Regions from separate parts of the Homo sapiens genome. Here all the other regions are linked to region 1. The links come from fine-mapping of genetic effects on gene expression. A gene starts in region 1. Each other region holds a variant in brackets. All regions are shown on one strand. Distances are between the middles of the regions. Region 1 holds the start of SMARCC2 (SWI/SNF related BAF chromatin remodeling complex subunit C2). Region 2 holds the start of MYL6 (myosin light chain 6). Region 3 holds the start of ESYT1 (extended synaptotagmin 1).

Evidence for each region.
Region 2: its variant is fine-mapped to the expression of SMARCC2 in monocytes (Kim-Hellmuth 2017, PIP 0.95).
Region 3: its variant is fine-mapped to the expression of SMARCC2 in whole blood (TOPMed, PIP above 0.99).

Annotation. Positions count from the first base shown.
Region 1 is chr12:56,185,094-56,193,267 of GRCh38, reverse strand. It overlaps SMARCC2 (SWI/SNF related BAF chromatin remodeling complex subunit C2), which reads left to right and starts at 3,785. Exons shown (of 29, transcript NM_001330288.2): 1 at 3,785-3,917; 2 at 5,962-6,081; 3 at 7,028-7,113; 4 at 8,157-8,174. The coding sequence starts at 3,807. TRS-CGA4-1 (tRNA-Ser (anticodon CGA) 4-1) reads right to left here and starts at 2,904; the gene lies at 2,823-2,904. It overlaps LOC107984468 (a long non-coding RNA gene), which reads right to left and starts at 2,576. Exons shown (of 2, transcript XR_007063330.1): 1 at 2,042-2,576; 2 at 1-175. RefSeq lists an enhancer at 3,139-3,238 and silencers at 3,479-3,758, 3,829-4,048.
Region 2 is chr12:56,158,337-56,166,510 of GRCh38, reverse strand. MYL6 (myosin light chain 6) reads right to left here and starts at 8,152. Exons shown (of 7, transcript NM_021019.5): 1 at 8,107-8,152; 2 at 7,800-7,827; 3 at 6,781-6,924; 4 at 6,363-6,536; 5 at 6,191-6,268; 6 at 5,841-5,885; 7 at 4,932-5,124. The coding sequence starts at 8,109. The coding sequence ends at 5,857. SMARCC2 (SWI/SNF related BAF chromatin remodeling complex subunit C2) reads left to right here. Exons shown (of 29, transcript NM_001330288.2): 27 at 812-1,193; 28 at 1,780-2,208; 29 at 2,746-4,152. The coding sequence ends at 2,822. RefSeq lists enhancers at 4,640-5,260, 5,261-5,883, 6,854-6,923, 6,964-7,033 and a silencer at 7,704-7,883. The variant AG/G (reference allele first, on the strand shown) is at 3,183.
Region 3 is chr12:56,121,472-56,129,645 of GRCh38, reverse strand. ZC3H10 (zinc finger CCCH-type containing 10) reads right to left here. Exons shown (of 3, transcript NM_032786.3): 3 at 2,132-8,174. The coding sequence ends at 7,779. ESYT1 (extended synaptotagmin 1) reads right to left here and starts at 1,379. Exons shown (of 31, transcript NM_015292.3): 1 at 937-1,379. The coding sequence starts at 1,326. RefSeq lists enhancers at 331-390, 571-670, 991-1,240, 1,046-1,707, 3,147-3,406 and 1 more and a silencer at 1,441-1,510. The variant G/C (reference allele first, on the strand shown) is at 3,290.

The DNA.
Region 1 (8,174 bases):
TGAGAGTAAAAGGGATGAACTTCAAGTAGCAAACTACCTCTGCCATATTTCCCTTCTTGGTCCAGATCCTCCATTTTGTAAACCATGGAGCCTTCTTCCCTTCACAACATAGTTGTTGGTTGCCCTCTGCTGGTCAATTCTGGTCTTGGCTCTCCAGATATTTAAATATGAGAACCTGTGCAAATTGGGATTTGGTAGGAAGGAGAATCATGAGCCTATGAGATTTTATAAATTCATTCAACACATAGTTGATCACATCTATAAGGCCTTGTAGAGAAGATACAAATAAATAAAATACACAGCCCTAACTCTCAAGAAGCTTATATACCAGTCTAAAGATTAAAACATGTACACATAACTACTGTAAAAAACACCCATTTATGCAAAAAAATTTTAAAAACTGACTCCTTATCTGTGTTTAATGTGTTTATATGCCACAGGGGAAGAAAGACTTCACATAATAAGTTGAGAGCATAGGATGTGGTAGGCAACAAGTGGTCAGAGAAAACTCCACAGGAGAACCAACATTTAGGTGGAGAATGAGTAGAAAGTGTGGAAGAGAAAGATTATTCCAGGCAGAGAACACCATGAGCAAGGCTAAATAACTACCAGGAAGAACTAAAAGAATGCCAGTGGACAGAATGTAGTGAATATGGAAGAGTGGTGAGAGAAAAGGGGTCATATCCTGCAACACAGAAAGCAGCCATAGAAGGGTTTAAGGTCCCGGACTGCAGTGTGGATGCTTTAGTGCAGTTTTCTATATATTACCTCGTATGGTGCTCACAAATACCACTACCTTCCAAATGAAGGCTCTAGCTCAGCCTGCACTCACCCCTGAGAAAAGTGAGCATATTTGAGACATATTTAGAAGGTAAAATAAATGGAACCTGTTTCTATTTTATTTTAATTTTATTTTATTTGAGACAGAGTCTTGCTGCATCGCCCAAGCTGGAGTGCAGTGGCACGATCTTGGCTCACTGCAACCTCTGCCTCTTGGGTTCAAGTGATTTCTCCTACCTCAGCTTCCCAAGTAGCTGGGATTACAGGCGCCCGCCAACCACACCCAGCTAATTTTTGCATTTTTAGTAGAGATGGGATTTCACTACATTGGCCAGGCTGGTCTTGAACTCCTGACCTCGTGATCCGCCTGCCTCAGCCTCCCAAAGTGCTGGGATTACAGGCGTGAGCCACCACACCCACCCCTGTTTTTATTTTATTTTTATGTTAGCATATCAAGGGAGAAGTCCTTGCATGCAATTTAGTGAATGGTGGTGGTGGTAGACTGACAGGCAGCTGGAGTGATCAAGAGCATCAAAGAGGAGGGGCCTAAAGAATTTTGGAAAGTGTTAATGGTGAGGGACAGGGAGGCAATGTGAGGGTCATGCTGGAAATAACAGCCTGAGCAGTGGTATGAAGGTGGGAAACTCTAAGGTATAAATGTGTAGAAAGCTCTATGTATTACCCTAGAGCCCCCTGCCCTTTGGGATTCCTTTTGGACAAAAGGCTGTGCAAGAAATACAAAAAGAACATCCTTGGCCAGGCACAGTGGCTCACACCTGTAATCCCACCACTTTGGGAGGCTGAGGCAGGCGGATTGCTTGAGTCCAGGAGTTTGAGACCAGTCTGGGCAACATGGCGAAATCCCAGAACGCCGTCTCTACTAAAAATACAAAAAGTTAGCTGGGCGTGGTGGTGCATGCCTGTAGTCCCAGCTACTGAGGAGGGAGGATTGCTTGGGCCTGGGAGTTTGAGGTTGCAGTGAACTGAGATCGCACCAATGCACTCCAGCCTGGGCGACAGAGCGGGACCCTGTCACAAAAACAACCCCCCAAAACAAACAACAAAATCCTCAACAAGCAGCCTAGATCCTCCCCACAATCAGAAATTAGGGGATAGGAAAAATGGGGTGAGATGAGTATAGGAGGGTTAAAGGTTAAAGATGAGATTAATTTCCTTGCTTGGTTAATACACATAGATAATTTAAAACAGTATCTGGCACATAATAAGCACTCAATAAAAAGTGAGAATTATCTTCCCATACCTTGGCTCTAACTGGATCTGCAATGATGTTTCAATAGACTACTCCCTTCTAGCCCTGTACACCTCAAGGAAATCCAGATGAGAGAATCCTGTTTCCTGGGTCTTCGGTGTAATCAGACCTACAAGGTGTGACTTCTGGTCATGAAATTTAGAGGAAACTCTAAGTTTGACTAATATTGCAAAACAGCCACTCACATTCCCAAAATGTAACCCTTCAACCAAATCCTTCCCTATGCCCTCAAAAGAATGAGACATGTGCCAAAGCTCTCCCAGGAAGCCTGAAGTTACAAAATTCTGAAAATGCCTCACAGTCTAGCAGCCAATACAGTCGTGCATAATTAAACTTCCCAAGATCACTCCCATCCTCCCAAATCCAGGGGTTAAGACCTTTTGGCGGCTTCCCTTTTGGAGAGAGAAAGTGCACGAAAGAAACGTGTGAGAACTGGGGTTACCTTTATGTGCTGTGAAAGGGGTTAAAAAAGTCGACGCCTGTAATCCCAGCATTTTGGGAGGCCGAGGCGGGCAGATAACCTGAGGTCAGGAGTTTGAGACCAGCCTGGCCAATATGGTGAACCTGTCTCTACTAAAAATACAAAAATTAGCCAGGTATGGTGACGCATGCCTGTGGTCCCAGCTACTCGGGAAGCTAAGGCAGGAGAATTGCTTGAACCCGGGAAGCGGAGGTTGCGGTGAGCCGAGATCGCGCCACTGCACTCCAGCCTGAGCAACAGAGCGAGACTCCCTTTTAATAATAAGAAGAAGAAAGAAAAAAAAAAAAAACCCGTCACGAACAGGATTCGAACCTGTGCGGGGAAACCCCATTGGATTTCGAGTCCAACGCCTTAACCACTCGGCCACCGTGACTTCCAAAACCGCGCTTTATCGCGCGCTTACAGAAGGGGTCCGCACTGCAATCCGGGAATGCGTGCGGGAACCGGAAGCAGGGTACCGGCCCCGACACACACACACCTGAGGACTCCCCACCCCTCGGTTCCTTACCTCCTATCTACGCCACCCAAAGAAAAAGAGTCGGATGGACTGGGTGACCCAGGGAGGGAGGGTCTCCTGCCTAGCGAAGAGTCGGGGTCTCGAGTAGGAGCTCACACCTACTTAGGAGGCGACAGCGAGGCCTGCGGAGGAAGCAGTTGAGGGAAGGCACTGGGCCGCCAGGGTGGCGACTAGGGGACATTTGGGTTAACAAGTGAGGGGAGTGCTGGGTGGACAAGGCGCGAGGAGTGAGGGAGACTCTGAAAAGTTTAAATGGGGAGCTGCTGTGAATGGATGGAAGGAAGGAACTTCTTGGGGAAAGGGGTTTGGGGTTTTGGGGGACGAGGGGCTTCGTCGGGTTAGGAATGCGCAAGGTGAGGACCACTCGGGTCTACGGGTTGGGGCTGCTCCAGCGACTGGCGGCCGCCTGGAGTGGGATAGCGAGGTGACACTCCCGAGCTGAGGCAAAAAGAGGGAAAGGGCTTCGCGTCTGGTAAGAGCGATCTCAGGAGAATGGCGCCCCCTCCAGGAAGCGTCCTTCTCCCCGGAGGCTCCCGCCTCCGCTGCCGGGGAGGCCGCCAGGGTCGGCCCGCGCCTGGAGCTCCGCCGCCGCGCCCGGCCTGCCGGCAGGGGGCGCAGCGCGGACCGGGGCCGGCCCAGGCGGCGGGAGGCGGCGGCCGCGGCGGCGGGAGGCGGCGGGAGGCGGGCGGAGGAGGAGGCGGAGGAGGCGGGAGCTGAGCTGAGTGGGGCGGGCGGCGGCGGGGCCCGAGCCGGAGAAGATGGCGGTGCGGAAGAAGGACGGCGGCCCCAACGTGAAGTACTACGAGGCCGCGGACACCGTGACCCAGTTCGACAACGTGCGGCTGTGGCTCGGCAAGAACTACAAGAAGGTACGCGGGCCGGGCCGGGCCGCGCGGGGACCGGGGGCGGGACAAAGGGACCGCGGCCCTGCAGCCCCGGGATCCTGCCTACCCTCCAGGCGCCCCAGCCCCTCCCCCGCGGCCTCCCAAGCAGCCCCCCGCGCGCCCTCCTGCGCTCCCGCGCCCCTCCCCCAGCCTCCCTCTCCCCGCACCCCCAGCCTCTGAGCCCAGCCCCCGCCCCCACTGCTGCGCCCTCTGCCCCTTGTTTTTCTCTACTGCCCGGCGGGCCCCGGTGCCATTAGCCCACCTTCCCCTCAGCCATCGCCCTCCTGGCTTTTCTGGGAGAGGCGGCCGGCCGGGTGTGGACCGGGTGCCCAATGGGCTCCCCCGCAACCCGGAGCGTGCCCGCCAGAGCTCCCCACGGAGCCAGGTACCAGCGGGGCTGAGGCCTCTCCGGTGCTTTGTGTATGTTCAGAGAGAGAGAATGGAAAGCAGGAGGGTAAACAGTCACAGAGCAAGCCGTTGGCTGCTCATCAGCCTGAAAAAGGTCTCCACCCAGGGATCACCTGTCTCCGCCGCTCATCCCCCACCTTCATCTAAGGGGCAACAGAATCTCTCAGGGAGCCGGGGTATAGGAGTTCCTGGGTAGCGGCCCCTTCCGAAACCTTTCCTCGATTTTACAATGAAGTCACCTTGCAACCTAGCTTTGCAGTACCCTGGGTTTGGGGTCGAGAGGTTAGGGTGAGCTTCCTATCTCTAGCCCCTCACACCCAAACCCCATAACTGGAGATCATAAGGTGGTGAACAAAAGGTTCAAGAATCCTTACCTGTCTTTTCTACCAAACCTCTTCCTGGTGTCGTCTTTGTCTCTAGGCCTGGTTTTCTCTGGAAATGGTCTGCCTCTCTTTTTCTCACTACCCTCAGAGAGGGATTCTCTTTATGGCTTTCTTTCAGCTCCCCAGTTCTTCCTGCCGGCTTTGCAGCTCGTCAGAAGTGTGCTTAGTGGCTTAGGAGAACTTCCTACTGATGCTGGTTGTGAGCCTGGCCCTGCCCTTGGGGTCTCTCTGGGTGTGAGAATCCTGACAAATAGCTGCTATTTCTATGGCATGTCTCTACGCCTGTGAGAGGCTCTTATTCCCAGGCTTCTACCTTTGACCTTTTGCAGGGAGATCAGGCTAGGGGCTTAGCCTCCGGCCTTGGGGGAATTGACAGTTGTGACCTGGTTCAGCTTCCATGCTCTTAGCTCTTTGTCATTTACCTTTCCCTTCACAGATCTATCTCTTTTCACCTCTCACTGAGAGGCACTGTCTTCTTTGTGATGAGTGGGGAGAAAACGGGTCAAAAAGTAAAAAGAAAGTCTCCTGGCTCAGGTTCAAATTAGAATGGAAGGCTAGGATGCTACTAGGTAGCAGAGTGTGGAAACATAGAAGTAGGGCCAGGGTTACTTGTCTCAGATACAGTTTCCTCGGACAGGGTAGATGTTGTCTTGCTCTTCTCCATCAGGCTGGGTAGTGGATGGCCCTTCCTGTCTAGGAGGGCCTATGAAGACATTTATACCCAGTCTTCAGAAGCAAAATGCACAAGCTCACTCAGTCAACTTGCCCTCCTTCACTTCCTTGTACCTTTTCTTGTTAGGCTACATTATAGGGGGAATCATGGCTTTACAGAGTTCCCCTAAGAAATGTCTCTCTTAGAGCCCCAGAGGTATTGCTTCCATGACCTGAACTTTATAAACCTCCAGAATTTTACAACCCTCAGTGCTGTTGGTTAAAGATGAGGTGCCAAGATAATAGGGTCCTGCAACTCCAATTTCAGAGTATAACTGAGGAAGAGTAGTAAGCTTCCCTGTTCCCCCCAACACTGGCCACCTGGGCTGGTGGCAGCAGAATTTCAGCTTCCTGGTTGGGGTGTCCAGGGCCTCCCTTTTGCCATTTTCTTTATAGAGACTAAATGGGGAGAAGGGCACTATTTTCTTTGCTCCACATGCTTCCAGAGCCCCTGGGGGAGAAATATGGGAGATAGTGGACAATTTATCTGAGATCTATTTTTCTTTCCTTTCCCTCTTTTTCCTTAGTATATACAAGCTGAACCACCCACCAACAAGTCCCTGTCTAGCCTGGTTGTACAGTTGCTACAATTTCAGGAAGAAGTTTTTGGCAAACATGTCAGCAATGCACCGCTCACTAAACTGCCGGTGAGTGCAGAAGTAGCAGGGAGGGTGGGGGGTGGTGGTGGTGAATCCTTCAAACTGAAGAGTTGTATTTTAAAAAAAGATTTGTGAATTTTGTAATTTTTGAAATTTGGGTTATTTTCCACCATCCCTATCCCTGATCAGGGCATTATTGGCTTGGCCTAGTCTCCAGTTTACCATTCTTTTTGTCTTAGTAATATTTTGTGCAACAAATTATTTCAGAGTACCTGGGATCAGTCCACAGGTCTCTCATGGCATGGTTAAAAGGGGACTTGAGATTTGGATTTGTGCAGGCTTGTGTTCAAATCCTGGCTTTGCCATTGGATGGCTCTGTGATCTTGGGCAACATTCATGAGTCTTGGTTCCTTCATCTCTAGATGGGATTAGTAAACCTACCTTGTAGAGTTTCCTTAATGGTACCTGAGGTAATCCAGTAAAGTGTTAGCACAAGGTGGTGCTTTCTGTGTGTTGGTTTCTTTCACTCCCCTCTTCCAGGCCACATGATGCAATGGCACAAGGGTTAAAGAATTTCAGCTTTGAGGCCGGGCGTGGTGGCTCACGCCTGTAATCTCAGCACTTTGGGAGGCCGAGGCGGGCAGATCACCTGAGGTCTGGAGTTGGAGACCAGCCTGACCAACATGGAGAAACCCCGTCTCTACTAAAAATACAAAATTAGCCGGGTGTGGTGGCTCATGCCTGTAATGCCAGCTACTCAGGAGGCTGAGACAGGAGAATTGCTTGAACCTGGGAGGCAGAGGTTGCAGTGAGCCAAGATCGCGCCATTGCACTCCAGCCTGGGCAACAAGAGTGAAACTCCATCTCAAAAAAAAAAAAAAAAAAGGGAGATCAATTCAGCATGGGATTTTGTGAAAGGATTATTAGATTATTAAGTGATGAGAGAATTTACAGTGGAACCTTGACATGCTTTTTCCGTATCTTGATTTTGTAGATCAAATGTTTCCTAGATTTCAAAGCGGGAGGCTCCTTGTGCCACATTCTTGCAGCTGCCTACAAATTCAAGAGTGACCAGGGATGGTGAGATGATTCTCTCTATTCTTCTTATATTTAGTTTAGAGGAAATCCCCCTTTTTGATTCCCTGGGATCTTTCTGGGGTAGAAATTCTTGTGAGTCTCTTTATTTTGCTGGGTCAGTAGACCTGACTTACTACGTCAGGAAGATGGTTGGGAGTCAGAGCCAAAACAGTCTCCAAGAGTGAGTGTGTGAGTATCACTGTGTGTTTTGTAGAGGAAAAGGGATTCTTAGGTTGGCATCTCAAACCTTTTTTTGTCCCTTTGAAGTAAGCACAGAGAGTGATTCATGGAGTTGAGATCAGTGAACCTCAGATCCCAGGTGATGTTTGGCAATAGCTGTGAGCAAGCTTGCCTCCTAATTTCCCATATTAAGAAGTCATGGCTGGGCGCAGTGGCTCACACCTGTAATCCCAGCACTTTGGGAGGCCGAGGTGGGTGGATCATTTGAGGTCAGGAGTTTGAGACCAGCCTGGCCAACTTGGCAAAACCCCATCTCTACTAAAATACAAAAATTAGCCGGGCATGGTGGCGGGCACCTGTAGTCTCAGCTACTTGGGAGGCTGAGGCAGGAGAATGGCTTGCACATAGGAGGCAGAGGTTGCAGCTGGCCAAGATCGCGCCAGTGCACTCCAGCCTGGGCAACAGAGCGGGACTCCCTCTCAAGAAAAAAAAAAAGGCCGGGTGTGGTGGCTCATGCCTGTAATCCCAGCACTTTGGGAGGCCGAGGCAGGTGGATCACCTGAGGTCAGGAGTTCAAGACCAGTTTGACCAATATGGTGAAACCTCGTCTCTACTTACTAAAAATACAAAAATTAGCCACGTGAGGTGGTGTGTGCCTATAGTCCCAGCTACTGGGGAGGCTGAGACAGGAGAATTGCTTGAACCTGGGAGGCAGAGGTTGCAGTGAGCCGGGATCGCGCCACTGCACTCCAGCCTAGGTGACAGAGCAAGACTCCATCTCAAAAAACAAACAAAAAAGTCACGTGCCCTCACCTCATCTGCAGACCTGAGCTATACCACTCACTAGATTATTGCCTCTTCACAAGGCGGCGTTACGATTTCCA
Region 2 (8,174 bases), 27 kb after region 1:
TCAGAAACAGTTAAGAAGGTTTAAAGTATCTGACAAATTCACATTAAGAGATTGCACATCAGCCGGGCGCGGTGGCTCACACCTGTAATTCCAGCACTTTGGGAGGCTGAGGCAGGTGGATCACGAGATCAAGGAGATCGAGACCATCCTGGCTAACATGGTGAAACCCCGTCTCTACTAAAGAATAAAAAAATACAAAAAATTAGCCCGGCATGCTGGCACACACCTGTAATCCCAGCTACTCGGGAGGCTGAGGCAGGAGAATTGCTTGAACCGGGGAGGCGGAGGTTGCAGTGAGCTGAGATCACGCTACTGTACTCCAGCCTGGGTGACAGAGTGAGACTCAGTCTCAAAAAAATAAAGAGATTGCACATCAAGTTTCTAAGTCCTGAGATCATAGAATAAAGCTAAAGCTCAGAGGCAAATGAATTGATCTGGGATAGCTTCCTAAGAACAGTGACTTTTTAGTGAATTTTGAAGTAAGAAAAGAACTTGAATTGACAAAAGGAACTGGAAGCATTTTCCAAATCAAGGTAATGGCAAGTTCAAAGCTTTGTAGCTGAAGTGAGCTTGGGCCAGGTTAAAGTCATTGCAATAAGAAACCATGTGGGCACTCAGGAGACATAAAGGTCATGGGAATTTGCACGAAGTCGGGTGGGGAGGACAGAGGGAGCACAAGCACAAGATGTAGATTTTGGGAACCTTCTGATTGAGAGGCAGGCTCTTTCAGAAGAAGACAAAGCAGGGGTTGAGGCATTTGCCTTTGGGATCTGCTGAAAATTGGATAACAATACTCAATTGGCACTGGCAGCTGGAGTATCAGAGGCAGCAGCTCCTGGCCGACAGACAAGCCTTCCACATGGAGCAGCTGAAGTATGCGGAGATGAGGGCTCGGCAGCAGCACTTCCAACAGATGCACCAACAGCAGCAGCAGCCACCACCAGCCCTGCCCCCAGGCTCCCAGCCTATCCCCCCAACAGGGGCTGCTGGGCCACCCGCAGTCCATGGCTTGGCTGTGGCTCCAGCCTCTGTAGTCCCTGCTCCTGCTGGCAGTGGGGCCCCTCCAGGAAGTTTGGGCCCTTCTGAACAGATTGGGCAGGCAGGGTCAACTGCAGGGCCACAGCAGCAGCAACCAGCTGGAGCCCCCCAGCCTGGGGCAGTCCCACCAGGGGTTCCCCCCCCTGGACCCCATGGTAAGTGTTATGTTCCAGAACTTTTGTTGGCTAGAGGAATCCAGGTGAATGTCCCAGTTCTCCTCAAAGGGGATACAAGATGAGTGTGGAGATGAGGTTAGCCTCAATTTCTACAGATGGGCCCATCTCTCTTAGGCCCCTAAATCAGCAGGAGTCCTTCCCCAAACTCGAGAGCTTTGGAATTTTATTCACTTACTCTAGTGTCAGAAAAGGGGAAGATAGTGCCAAGGAATGGCTAGATTATCCTTGTTTGTAAAAGTGAGTTATTCTTTGGGAGGCCGAAATGGGTGGATCACGAGGTCAGGAGATTGAGACCATCCTGGCCAACATGTTGAAACCCCGTCTCTAGTAAAAATACAAAAATTAGCTGGGCGTGGTGGTGCGTACATGTAGTACCAGCTACTCGGGAGGCTGAGGCAGGAGATTGCTTAAACCCGGGAGGCGGAGGTTGCAGTGAGCCAAGATCGTGCCACTGCACTCCAGCCTGGTGACAGAGTGAGACTCCGTCTAAAAAAAAAATAGAAAAGGTGAGTTGTTAAGCAAAATTTTATACCTAATTTTCTCCATCTCTCATCTTTATTCTCAGGCCCCTCACCGTTCCCCAACCAACAAACTCCTCCCTCAATGATGCCAGGGGCAGTGCCAGGCAGCGGGCACCCAGGCGTGGCGGGTAATGCTCCTTTGGGTTTGCCTTTTGGCATGCCGCCTCCTCCTCCTCCTCCTGCTCCATCCATCATCCCATTTGGTAGTCTAGCTGACTCCATCAGTATTAACCTCCCCGCTCCTCCTAACCTGCATGGGCATCACCACCATCTCCCGTTCGCCCCGGGCACTCTCCCCCCACCTAACCTGCCTGTGTCCATGGCGAACCCTCTACATCCTAACCTGCCGGCGACCACCACCATGCCATCTTCCTTGCCTCTCGGGCCGGGGCTCGGATCCGCCGCAGCCCAAAGCCCTGCCATTGTGGCAGCTGTTCAGGGCAACCTCCTGCCCAGTGCCAGCCCACTGCCAGGTGAGAAGGGGCCAAGAGGGGAGAAGGGTGAGGGAGAGGGGTCCACCTGGAGGGAGGGTGAGCGGGCAGGTGGGGAAGAGGTCAGGTATTAGAGTTTCCACAATCCTTTTTGAACACTCTGGTAAAATTAGAATACAGGAGGAAGGGCCTCTCTGGCCGTCCTCCACCATTCCCCAGCCTGGCAGCTGCCACCTTTGGGATGATGTTGGGGCCTTTCACTGGTGGGTCATGGAGCAATCCTGTGGCAGAGAGCATCTCAGTTGTAAACTTGAAAAGCAGCTGTTTGCATGATGATTGAGTGGCATCCCTTTGCTTATTCCTATCACGTTCAAATGCCCCATATAGAGAGTCTTTCTATATGTTTTTCTGAGTATGAGGTAGAAAAGAGTGTTGGGAACAGAAGTTGAACATTATGGGTACCTCATTCATCCACCCAGCCACTGCATGCCATGCCCGGTTCTGTCTGTCTGTGGTGGTCTGGGTCTGGAGCCATCTCTCCGGCGTACTCTAACTGATTTATCTTCCTTTTCTCCACAGACCCAGGCACCCCCCTGCCTCCAGACCCCACAGCCCCGAGCCCAGGCACGGTCACCCCTGTGCCACCTCCACAGTGAGGAGCCAGCCAGACATCTCTCCCCCTCACCCCCTGTGGACATCACGGTTCCAGGAACAGCCCTTCCCCCACCACTGGGACCCTCCCCAGCCTGGAGAGTTCATCACTACGTAAGGAAAGCTCCTTCCGCCCCTCCAAAGCCCTCACCATGCCTAACAGAGGCATGCATTTTTATATCAGATTATTCAAGGACTTCTGTTTAAAAGATGTTTATAATGTCTGGGAGAGAGGATAGGATGGGAATGCTGCCCTAAAGGAAGGGCTGGTGAAAGGTGTTTATACAAGGTTCTATTAACCACTTCTAAGGGTACACCTCCCTCCAAACTACTGCATTTTCTATGGATTAAAAAAAAAAAAAAAA[AG/G]TAGATTTTAAAAAGCCACATTGGAGCTCCCTTCTACCCACTAAAAAATAACCAATTTTTACATTTTTTGAGGGGGAGTGAGTTTTAGGAAAGGGGAATTAAGATTCCAGGGAGAGCTCTGGGGATAGAACAGGGCGCAGATTCCATCTCTCCCCAAGCCCCTTTTTAGTGACTAAGTCAAGGCCCCAACTCCCCTCCCCCACCCTACGCTGAGCTTATTCGAGTTCATTCGTACTAATAATCCCTCCTGCGGCTTCCTCATTGTTGCTGTTTTAGGCCACCCCAGCTCAGCCAATGATTCCTTTCCCTCTGAATGTCAGTTTTGTTTTTAAAAGTCACTTGCTTAGTTGATGTCAGCGTATGTGTATTTGGTGGGGAAAACCTAATTTCGGGGATTTCTGTGGTAGGTAATAGGAGAAGAAAGGGCACTGGGGGCTGTTCTCCTTCCTTCCCTGGGCTGTATCCATGGACTCCTGGAAGGCACAGAGAAGGGAGCTATAAGAGGATGTGAAGTTTTAAAACCTGAAATTGTTTTTTAAAGCACTTAAGCACCTCCATATTATGACTTGGTGGGTCACCCCTTAGCTTCCTCCCTCTCCCACCAAGACTATGAGAACTTCAGCTGATAGCTGGGGGCTCCCCAGATGAGGATGCAGGGATTTGGGAGCAGTGGAAGAGGGTGCCCAACCTTGGGTTGGACCAACCCTTGGCTCGCAGCTCAACTCTGCTTCCCGCATTCCTGCTCCACGTGTCCCAGCTTCTCCCCTGTGACGGGAAGGCAGGTGTGACTCCAGGCTCTGCACTGGTTCTTCTTGGTTCCTCCCACCAGGCCCTTTGTTCCTCATGTCCCCATGTTTCTCTCCCTCTGCGTCTTAGCACCTTTCTTCTGTTCAAAGTTTTCTGTAAATTTTCTCTTTTTTTCTTTCTTTCTTTTTTTTTTTTTTATAAATTAATTTGCTTTCAGTTCCATCTTGTGGGTGCATTCTGTGTTCTTACCTGTGGCTGTCAGGCAGGGGGATTGTGATGGGAGCAGCTTTCCTGGAGTCCTTCACAGCGGCGTTTACCTGGGCCGAAAGACACTCTGCAAGCCACACGGCCTACAGACACTGCGCCTCCCCACAAAACACGAACGGCAGCACAACTGTCGAGACTATGTGCTGGTATAGGAGCAGAGGCTCTCACCTGCCCTAAAAGCTGTTTAAGACTTGGAAGGACATTCCCACAACATGGAATTTTGTATCTCTGTCCCTTCAGAAGTAGTGGTTTCACTCCTTCCCTTATTAGAGAGGAGGCAAGCCCCTTACCTACTTTTGTTATAATTGGCCCTTCACCCTGCTGAGGTGACGGACAGGCTTAGGCAGTGCTAATAATGGCCTGGCTTTAGCTCCAATAAACACTCCACAGGCTTCCCCACAAAAGGCCTTATTGGGAGCTTGGGAGGGCGGGGGCCAGATTTAAGGAGCTGGAAGGGTAGGAGAAGACAGCCTGATATGGAATGGAACAGGGATGGCCAGCCTTAGTCCTACTGGGATCTATGGCTTTCCTAATCTCCCAAGAGGTAGCTTGTGTAAGATGGATGAATGGGGCCAGTAGTTTTTAAATGAAGCCCAGATGGCTAGTACAGGGCCTCCCCCAGCTTTCCTCAACCCCTGCACCATTGATTGACCTTGGACTCTGCCTCAGGGCAGAAATCATCACCATCTCACCTTCTTCCCCTTTACCCTGTTCAGGAAAGAAAGAACCGAACCGAGGGCCCAGAGAGCAAGTTTATTTGGTGAATGCTGACGGCAAACATCATCCAAGAGAGACAAGATGGGAAAGTTGCTGAGACAAGAAAGCCTAGGGAAACTTTAGGCTAGATACAAAATTCACACAGGGAAAGGCACGGACTCTGGGGAGACTGGGAAGGTCCTCAGCCATTCAGCACCATGCGGACGAGCTCTGTGGAAAGGAAAGGTGGGATGAGCCAGGGAACAGGGCTGTGGAGGGGTACGCCAAGGGCCAGGGGACTACCAGACTGCAAAGGTAGCATAAGCGGGAACATGCCCACAGCAACCAACCCTGGGGTCAGTTTGCAGAGGAGCCACCTTGAGTCTGACCAGTTCTCCATGCCCCTAGCTCCCCTCCCAGCAGCTGTTAGTCCCCCACCCAAACCTAAGCAGCAAGAACACAGCAGAGGCAGAAAAGTTCTCCACTACACCTACAGCTACTGTCAGCCACTGGCGGGAGGAGAGGACAGAGTTTTGGGTTAGGGTACCTCCAAGCTGCCCAGCGAGGGAAGGGGAAAGGACTGTTCAGCTATAGCAGCAGAATGGGGCAGGCAACCCATACCCCTCTATGCCAGCTACCCATGCTCCAGGGCCAGAAGGTCACCCTAAAGCAAGACTGGTATACAGGCTGGTGAGAGTTCCCAGACACCAGCACCCAGGGCCGCATAAGTAAAACCTCAGGGCCCATTCTAGAGGTAAGGAGGTACTGTACCCCCAGGTTGTCTTCCTCTTTGAGGAATCCCTCCCCTCCCTAGTCAGCTCCATGCAGAAACATGCCAGGAGGAAGTCAGATGGTAGTAGGGTAAGGGCAGGGGATAAAGAGCACAGGTTGGGGAAAAAAGAAACACTGGGGAGATCAACTAGAGGAGAGGCTGGGAGGAGCCGTACCCGCCCCATGGGCCCGTCACCCCGACAGGATATGCCTCACAAACGCTGCAGGAAGGAAGAGACATTCATGGTGAAGACAAGACAAAGACATGGGGTGAGGGGTCAGGCAGTGGGGACAGACATTCCATTATTTCACTTCTCATTCCTTCCCACCCTCTACAATACTACCCCCTTCCTTTCCTGTTATACCGCCCTGACCTCCCACTCCTGGGCTGGGCTGGGCAGGGCCCTGCACCTTGCCTCCTGGCTCTTTTTGGAGCCCAAGTCCAGGGATAGGGAAAGCCCCAGACACTATACTTGACCTGCCCCATATGGCTGCTTTCTCTGAGAAAGCGCAGTTCACCTCTTACCTTCATAGTTGATACAACCATTGCTGTCCTCATGCCCTGCCACCAGCATCTCTACTTCTTCCTCTGTCATCTTCTCACCTGCAGGGGGAAAGAAAGCATTTTTGGAATTGGGTGACAAGTGAGGTACCTCAGGGTGCCATCTCAGCTCAAGGACAAGGACACAGAACCTTACCCAGTGTGACAAGAACATGCCGGATTTCAGCACCCATGACGGTGCCATTTCCTTCCTTGTCAAACACCCGAAGTCCTTCGACATAATCCTCATAGGTGCCCTGGTCCTTGTTCTTGGCCACTGTCTGCAGCATGGGCAGAAAGTGCTCAAAGTCCAGCACCTTCACATTCATCTCTGCCATAAAGGAGGTGGAAGTGTCAGGCCAGAGAAGTAACACAAGTTCTCAGGACAGGGGATTATAGAGACCTCAACTGAACAGAGAGATGACAGATGACTCCCCACTAAAAGCAAGGAAATCCATGGGATTTGCTAATCCAGACTTGCTTGAGTTTGGGGCCTATGAAGATAAAGGGAAGCTCTTAGCTGAAGAACTGTGGGCCCATGACCACACTGAGGAGTTGTTCTTTAGGCCCCTCACCATCACTCTTGGGGTTCCCCAGGACCTTGAGCACCTCGGCGTTGGTAGGGTTCTGGCCCAGGGCCCTCATCACATCCCCACACTGGCTGTACAGGATCTTGCCATCACCTGTTCGGTCAAACAGCTGGAAGGCCTCCTTGAACTCTGAGGATTCAGATGAATGTCAACACAGGATTTGAGGGTTAATCCAAACCCTACCTCAGAGCTCTGCTGCCCATTCAACTTTGATCATGCTGAGGAAACGAGATATCTGCACCAAACTGTACACCAAAGTCTACTTAAGAGGGCTCTATTTCTCTTCCTCCCAACTCAAGTGTTCTATATAGAGGCTTCCTCCCCTTCTGGCAGCCTGGTAACATCCATTTACACAACCCCTCTGCCTGCGGCAGGCCTGCCAATCTCCACTGCTGCTACTACACTTCTCAGGGCAGGAATTCGCCACCGCCCAGTCTCAGTCCTGTCCTTATAAGGAAGTGGGAGCAGCAGCCTGGGACTAGGGTCATCCCAACCTGCCACTTCGCACCCCTCCAGTATAAAGAGAACTTCCAGAGGGTATAGCTACAGTCATATCCTTAGCAAACTCCCCTGTCTTGTCCCCATCTGCACAGAATATCAGGTCACTGCTCTACAATCTTCACAACTGCAAGCTGGGAGGGCGGGGACAGTTATCACAAGAGGAGAAAAGAGGCAGAAGTAGCTGATTAAAGGACAAAGGAAAGCAGGCAGCTTTATACACCCTCCCGAGACCCCACACACAGCAGGCATTAAGTGACCAAGTTTTTTCACATACCCACACCACCTAAAACTCACCCAGTGCTTGGGATCAGATCTAGAGTGGAAGGGGAGGGAGGAAGAAAGTGAGAAAAGAAAATGGAGGATCCAGAAGAAGAGAAAATAATCCAGGGGGTAATCTCATGGGGGTGCTAAAGAGATGACAGATTAAGATTAGAGGATAGGTGCTGGGGGGAGGGTGTCCCTCTCCCTAAGGGTGACCTCGGTAGGGATCAGAGATAACCTACCTGCGGTCTGGTCTTCGGTGAAGTCACACTGCTCAGAGAAGAGGGAAGTGGTCAGCATCTGAACGCCAATCCCCCGAGTTTCTATCCCAGCCCCACAAACTCTGACCCACAAACTCTGACCCACAAACTCCTGTTTCAGGCTGCAGACTCGCTTCCCCGCAGGGCCCCAGTCTTTCCAACCCCACCTCCAACCTTTCGGGTCCTCAGATTCCCTTTGCCTCCTACCCCTGCCTTCTCCTCGCCCCCCACCCGTCTCTTCCTGCCTCTCGTCCCCAATCCTGCCCGTCTCCCAAGACCTGGGCCCCACCATCTTGACTGCTCAGCTCTCCGGGACCTTTTCCTGCAGTAATGGCTCCGACTCTCGGCCCAACCCTA
Region 3 (8,174 bases), 64 kb after region 1:
AGGTCCCCTAGAGCCATTTGGCCCTCTTTCTCCTCCCCTTTCCAGTCCAGGGCCTGGGAAGCTTGGCTGTGTCTGTCTAGTGTCAATTTTGATTCCTCTCTGCTGCCATTCTCCCCCTAGACTGGCACCTCTGCTGGGAGGGGCCGGGTAACCGGCTTCGCCTCTGCAAGACTAGAGAGAAGGCATCCGCCTCAGCACAGGAGACGCGGCCGCCGCAGAAATAAGGGTCTCTGCCCCAACGGAACAAGCGCAGCCCACAGTCCGGAAAAGGGTGTGGCCGGCCGAGGAGTGCGGGGGAGTGTGCGCCGCGGGCACTGCAGCAGCCGCACCACCTCCTCCCGTAGCCCTCCCTCCGTCCAGCAGCCGCCTCTGCCGCGCTGCAGTCTGGCGGCTGGAGGCTTGAAGGTGGCTGCCCGAGGGTCGTCCAGGGGCCGGGGCTGGGTCCTAGCGGGTACCCGGGGATAAAAGCGAGAAAAGAGAGAACCGTATGGCTTTAAGTAGGTAAAAAGTCTCGAGGAGGATGGGAAAGACTAGGGAAACCTTTGAGAGGTAACGGGACCAGGATTTCCAGGAGCAGCAAAGCCGCGAGTGGCACCAAAAGCAAGAGGGACGTTCAAGATGGCTTGGCTAGGAGGGAGAGCTTCGGCTGAGACGGGGTCCCCAGATGTTATTACTGCTGTTGCCCAAGTAGAGGAAGAAGTCCTGATTCTGTGGAAGGATCCAGTCTGGGCATGCGAAAGGGTGGGTGGGGAGAGTGAGCAGTCGGTTCCAAGAGTGGCGCGTCCAGCAGGCAGGCGGCTAGCGGGGAGAGAGGGGAAAGTCTGGGGCCCACTGTCCCAAGGCAGGGAGCTGACTCTAGGCATAAGGAGGAAAAGCCCCAGATGGAAGGGGTGGAAGGGGGCTATGCTGCACAGAGGACCGAGGGTGGTCGCTCACCCAGGCAGGTAGCTCTCGATGACTCATATAGAGAGTTTTCGCAGTGAGCTGCTCCTCGTCGTCCAGTAGCTGCCTCGCTGCTCGAAGGCTCCGTTCTTTCTCGTCGCGGACCCGGCGCCAGCCCAGGTAGAGGGCGAGGCCGAAGAGCACGAAACCCACGCTGAGTCCCACTGCCCCGGCCAAATACACAGGTATCAGCACCAGCAACCGCCTCCCGAATGAAGTCAGCACCGCCAGGGCCTCACCCGCCGCGCCAGGGCCAGCAGGTTGGCCCCCAGAACCTGGGTCTGGCTTTGCGTGAGCAGCGGGGGGCTGGTCAGTGGGGTCGGAGGGAGCAGAGGGCTGGTCCATGGGGCTGGGGCTGGGGCCCTCTCCTGGAGATCGCTCCATTGTGCCACCTCTGGGAGGATCCGCCCGACCCAGGGACTGGCTGGAGGTTGCCTAGTCTTGCGATCAGCTCCCCCAGGCAAAACGTGATCCCCGGGATGGAGGAGGGGACTTCAAGCCACGCCCCTCCTTTCTGGCGATTTGGGTTGGTCCGCGCTGCACAGACCAAGGTGGAGTTAAAAGGTTGAAACTCCACCCCTCTTCCGCGGGGAACGGACCGGGTTTCGGATAGGTAGGGCCTCCCTGATTGGGCCCGAAGGCCAAGATGGGAGGTCTGAGATGGCGGGAAAAGGAAGAAAGGGGCTCAGGGGCGGCATTCGATTGGTAATAAAGAGGAGGAGGCGTGGCGCACCATTTCAGGAGAGGCGGGACCAAGAGCTCCCCCACGTGGGATTGGAGTGCCTGTGGTATGACGTCATGCAGAGCTGCACCGCCAATTTCTTGGTTTTGGAGAAAGCCCAAGTTGCGAAGTTGAGGGGTTGTGGAGCTTCAGGATTTCCCTCTACTCATTCGGTTTGGCAGGATTTGGTCTGGGATATATATATATGTTCTTTTGCCGACTTTCTCTAGTTTTCATACTCTAAGCACATTCCTTATCCTTCAACTTTTTCCTGCCTGCCCTTACAAAAGGAAAGGATACGATCGTATTTGGAATGAAAGTGTTTGAAAACTAACCCCGTCTATCCCGTCCCTAATCCCCTACCTTCTTTGTGTGGTGTAACGACTGACCCTGGAGAAAACTGGAGAGTCAGAGAATTACAGAGTTGAGATAATCCAGCCTTCAGGGAAAGGGGGAAAAAAAGCAGAGTGAATAGAAAGTGAGGCTTTATTTCTTTTTGGAAATTTCCAAGAGTTAGTAAGTCATCTCTATCTTAGAGGATGGATGTAAGACTAGTTGGCTCCAAAAGGGAGGGAGGCAGCGCAAATTATTACATTTTCCAATAATTTTCTGACCCTGAAGAACTTCTAGGACACTAAAATGAGGGATCAAGAGTAAGGGAAAGACAATTCCTTTTCACATTTGCCTGAGTTAGAAGGAAGGTTTGCCATACAGTCAGGTGCAGAACTAGTGCAGTCCCACAGTGTACGGTGTAGGTTTAGGAAGGAAAAAGTGCAGGGTACACCGATGACTATTGTTACTAGTTAACTGGCGTTAGAGGTGGAGTGTTGTCCTAGGATCTAGGAACTAGACTAATTGGAAGTTGATGAGGGAAGTGTTGGTCATAAGATGATTACCTTTTAATGCAGTATATATGGGGCATATTATGTAAATCTGTCAGATGCAGCAGAAGAACTGGGGTTGATCACTGGGAAGAAACTAGCCATTTCTTAGAGGAAGTGTCTTACAGGATGAGGCCTGCAGCTGATAAATTTTATCTGGTTCTGCAGGGCATAGATTTCATCAGCCTGTGTTTACCAAAGCTGCTTAAAACCTGTCCCTGCTCAGCCTCTATCACTTAAATTTTTTCACTTCCTTTTCTCTACTTCCCTAGGGCTAGCAGTATCTTGACTGCTTCATTCAGTTTGCAGAACTATTTAAGAAACAATATTCTGTCTCCTATATCCTCCATATTCCCAGAGGTAAGCAGGTAGAAAAGGGAAACAAGGAAATTGGAGGAATTATGAGTGACCTGCTCACCAACTGATAAAGCAGAACTACAGAAGGAACATGGATGAACCTTAGAGAGAAACCTCTCTATAAACTGAAATTTGCCAAGCACTGGAGTAGGCAAGGAGGTTCCTGAGAATGGGGGAATGGAGAGGGTGACCTATGGAGGTTCTTTTCCAAACTTCTCCCTTCCTCACCTCATCCAGATCATCAGAAATTATATAGGGGATAAAACTTCATCCTCAGGAAGTTCTTGTCCCAGCTGGGGCCCAGGAGCCACAGGATCAGCAGCTGCAATGCAGTTACCAACACAAGTAAACAGGGTGGGTCCCCGCCCACTGACAATTCTGCTGCCCA[G/C]GTGCCACCTGGTGGTGATAAGCAGTAAGTGGACAACAGGAAGGGATGCCCATTTGTTAGAGGAAGTGTCTTACAGGATGAGGCCTACAGGAGGAGAGAGAGTAAACTTCCTGGACTTGCAATCTGCATTTATATGTAAACCATAATCACCTCCAAGAGGCAGAGGGTGAGATACGGTACTCTGATCTCAGCTCACAAAGATGGGAAGGGCAACAAGATTTGAGGAAACTCCTTCTGTATTCTTTATTCCTCAAAAGTTACTGCCAAGCCAGTCGCGGTGGCTCATGCCTGTAATCCCAGCACTTTGGAAGGCCGAGGCAGTTGGATCACCTGAGGTCAGGAGTTCAAGACCAGCCTGGCCAACATGGCGAAACCCCGTCTCTACTAAAAATACAAAAATTAGCCGAGCATGGTGGCATGTACCTGTAATCCCAGTTACTCTACTTGGGAGGCTGAGGCAGGAGAATCACTTGAACCCGAGAGGCGGAGGCTGCAGTGGGCCGAGATCACGCCACTACACTCCAGCCTGGGCAACAGAGTGATACTCCGTCTCAAAAAAAAAAAAAAAAAATTACTGCCAAGTAGTGATCGCTTTGTTGGATGGCTATATCATTAGAACTTTCTTTTGTCGTCTGGAGTGAGACTGCCTGAATAGATTCCTGGCCCCATTCCTTACTTGCAGAACCCTGGGCAGGTTACTTTTTAAGCCTGCTTTCTCCTCTGTAAAATGGGTACAATAATATTACCCATTGTGTCAATGAGATGTTGCATGTAAAGTGCCTAGCACAGAGCCTTGGCTTATATTAAGCAGTCAACAAATGCTAGCCGGCTGGGTGCGGTGGCTCAACGCCTGTAATCCCAGCACTTTGGGAGGCCGAGGTGGGCGGATCACGAGGTCAGGATATGGAGACCGTCCTGGCTAACACGGTGAAACCCCGTCTCTACTAAAAATACAAAAAGAAAATTAGCTGGGCACCTATAGTCCCAGCTACTCTGGAGGCTGAGGCAGCAGAATGGCGTAAACCCTGGAGGCAGAGTTTGCAGTGAGCAGAGATCGTGCCACTGCACTGAAGCCTGGGCCACACAGCTAGACTCCGTCTCAAAAAAAAAAAAAAAAAAAAAGTTAGCCATTATTCTAGAAATCCCTTTTTACTTCCTGTGTAGCAAACAGGATCTTCCTCCACTGGGCAGCCCTTCAAATATTTGAAGACTTCTATTTGAAGCTTTCTCTTGCCAGCCTTTTTTTTCTAGCAACACACTGGTTTGTCAATGGCCCTCTTTAAAAATTACATTTAGAACAACACACTACTAAGTGGTTACACTTAGGCAGAACATAGAACTGCTGTATTTGTAATCTATTACCAAGGTTCTACTACCCTTATGGAGCTCCTAGAAAGATGCCTAGAACATAGCAGGCTCTTAATAAATATTTATAAATGGACATCTTGAGGGCTAAGATTCTATTTTTTTGCAGCCAACTGGAAGTCCCAGTTTGTTCTCATGTGAATTATTGCTAATATAAATCTCTAACATTGTTCCTCAAACTAGTTCAAGATCTAAGCAATTTTTTAGTGTGAGAGTGCTCCAGTGTTTTAGTCAATTCAAGTTACAGACACTTTGAATATTATTTAGCTCTTCCTGTGTTACTGTTGATAAATGGGTTTTTTACATGTTTACCCGAGTTGGGTTTTTTCTTTTTACAATAAAACATAGCCCTTGGGCTTATCACTAGAGAACAGAGATTTCTCTAACATAAATGCGCTAACCAACACTAAGTACAAGTGTTCAGTTTGATTCTACCAAATGCTACTATTTTTTTCTCATTATTTTTTAACCAGAGCCATTTGCATGGAAAAAATGCTACGATTAACTGACCCGTAATTTTCCTCTTATCTGTGATGACTTAGCAGGTGAGAGAGAGGAAAGTAGCTCCTGTAATCTGGGAACTGGCCTGACACAGCCAGGCTTCAGAGCTGTTAGGGCTGACCTGGTGCTCACAGGTAGCCAATGAGTTCTCTTGGACACAAACAATCTCACAAAACACCAGCATCAGACAAGGTCACTCAGTGACTGCGATGAAGTGAGACAAAAAACAAAATCACTACACAATTTTGTTTAAGCACAAAACAAGGTCAGTGTGCAAACCACAAAACAGCAAACATCCCCTTTCCCAGCTAGTGAGTGACTTCATCATCGACTGTGCTTAGGTTCACTTGTCTGCCCTTCTTCTAGACAAGCTACCCAATTATCCTGGATTCCCTTAACAGCACCCAATCCAAAAGAACACCCACTTTCTTGAATCTTCCCCAAAATCACTTAACCAAAGTCTAAGTTCTCTAAGTCGTTCCTAACACCCTCATGCTGAGACACACCACGTTATCCCCAATGGTGAGCCCTCCCCCTCACTGCAATGAGCATTAAACCCAACTTGCTCAATTACCAGGTGTATTCTTGGTGGTCTTCAGCTGGAGTAAATACATACAAGACATACAATGTCTAAAATTTCCCAAATCTACCTCTTTGGAGATAACCTGGCAAGGAGGAAATAAAGTCAGTCAGGATTTGACTGAGAATTCATGTTGGTATCTATGGTTACATTCTTCTCTAAATGCTCTTAAACCATCTCTTTTAATAGTCTAGAATTGCCGGGCACGGTGGTTCATGCCTGTAATCCCAGCACTTTGGGAGGCTGAGGCGGGCGGATCACGAGAGATAGAGACCATTCTGGCCAACACGATGAAACCCCGTCTCTACTAAAAATAAAAAAATTAGCCGGGCGTGGTGGCGGGCGCCTGTAGTCTCAGCTACTCGGGAGGCTGACGCAAGAGAATCGCTTGAACCCAGGAGGCGCAGGTTACAGTGAACCGAGATTGCGCCACTGCACTCCGGTCTGGTGACTGGGCAAGACTCCATCTCAAAAAAAAAAAAAAAAATTGTGTCCCAAAAAACATTAAGCTTATCAATGTGTTGTTTCTAAAATCCACAATGTTAGCCCACTTTTAGTCTTTAGGCTTTTTTTTTTAATGACTGGCCTTGACCTAGCCCACCATCTCCAATCCCAGATGTGACCTGAGTGATCAACCAGACAAGAAAGCAAGAGGTAGCAGGAGACATGATGAGGGGGAACACAATCCAGGATCACTCTCTACCCCCAAATCTACTGTCCCATTAGACTAGACACCTGAGTTGTTTTCCCTACATCAGCCGTGAGCTGAGGAGGAACTGAGGTTTGACTATTGGGGCCCCTGGCCTTACTGACTTAAGTAGATTTAAAACTTCTGGTCCTATGTGGAGACAGAGGAAAGGGATGGACCCTGAGGCTTGTGTCCCTAGAAGGACTCTCTTTTCCCAGACCTCCCAAGCCTTGAAGGCTTCAGGAACTGGCCACTGAAGGGGTGGGGTAGGAGGGACATTAACTGCCATCAACTGAGCGGCAACTGCCATCAACTCAATGGCCATCAACTCCACCTGTCCTGCTCTGTTTGAATAAGGATCTGTCAACTATGTAACATCCCATCCGCATTTCAGCAAATACACTCTCCTTACTGCCTGCCCTGCTAAATGACCCTAGGAGCCCTGGTTACTGAGGCAACCTGGGAATAGCACATACAGACAGAGACCAGAAACAGATGGGACTATTTTTAAAACTAGACTGGGTGGCTCCAAAGCTTTTACCCCATAAAGTGCCTTCCCCAAAGCCCCATTTGGTCTTGTTCTGGGTCCCTACCCTTCTTCACTGGCTTCTATCCATCTTACCAAAGCTATGTGAGGCTGGGGTCTTTATCCCATTTTGGCATGAGATCTATTTACTGCTCCCATCTTCCACACAGAATAGCTAAGCAAGTTTTCACTGCCTCCATTTGTTAAAAATAATTGTTCTTTTATTTCTTTGGAAAGTAGTGGGCCCTGCCCTATGGATTTTCAGGTCAAACTAGGGTAATGAATGCTCCCCTAGTCTTTGGGCTGGAGCACTATGGTCCCAGCTTTCCCAGGGCCCAGAAGCAATTCCTGTATTGTCCAACCCAAGCAACTAGGACCCAAATTGTCTGAAGGCTCCTATCAGGCCTTCTCTCCTGACCACCCACTTCCCAATCTTTCCTGGCTTTCCCTCTGGGCAGGGTATTTTTTTCTTCTAAAACCAGTGCTGGAACCTGTGCTGTGCAGAAGAGAGGACAAGACGAGGGATGTTCCCAAATTCCCATAAGAGGACACAGCCCCTCAGTCAGTCCTTCCTCTCTGCTGGCTTCAGTCTGCACTCCTCTGCAAGCCCCCACTGTGAGGCTTGAAGATGGACAAGAGGACCCTCATAAAAGGGAGGTGAGAGAAAACACACCATCCCAACCCCTCCTCAGGACATACTCCTTGTAGTCTCTTGTCCTAGTTCTCAAGGGAGCCCTTCAGACAGGGATGGGGAAGGCTAGGTGAGTGGGCAAGGGCCCCCTGACCCCAGCCCTGCGAGGCTATACCAGGGGAGTGTCCATTAGCCCCATCAGTGTGGCATGGCCGTGATGCGCATGCTCTGGGAAGCGATAGGGTAAGTCACCATGGGAGTGGTGGTGTGGCTCATTGTGATTCCTGCCAAGGGTTGGGCCATCGATACAGCCACAGGGGCCACAGGAGCCACAGATACAGCCACAGGAGCCATGGAGACAGGTGGAGGTGCCATTCCCTGGGCAATTGTTTGAGCCAGGGCAGCTGACAGTGGCGTGATCTCTGGGGTCAAGTGTGGGGGTGGGGGTGGTGGAGCAGCAGGAGGTGCAGCATTAGTTGGGGGAGCAGCTGGAGCTCCAGCAGGGGCCACCAGTTCTTGCTGGGACACTGGACGAGGCTGTAGAGCCTGGCTGCTGAGAGTAGTGTGAGTCTGGGCAATGCCATGGTTAAAAGT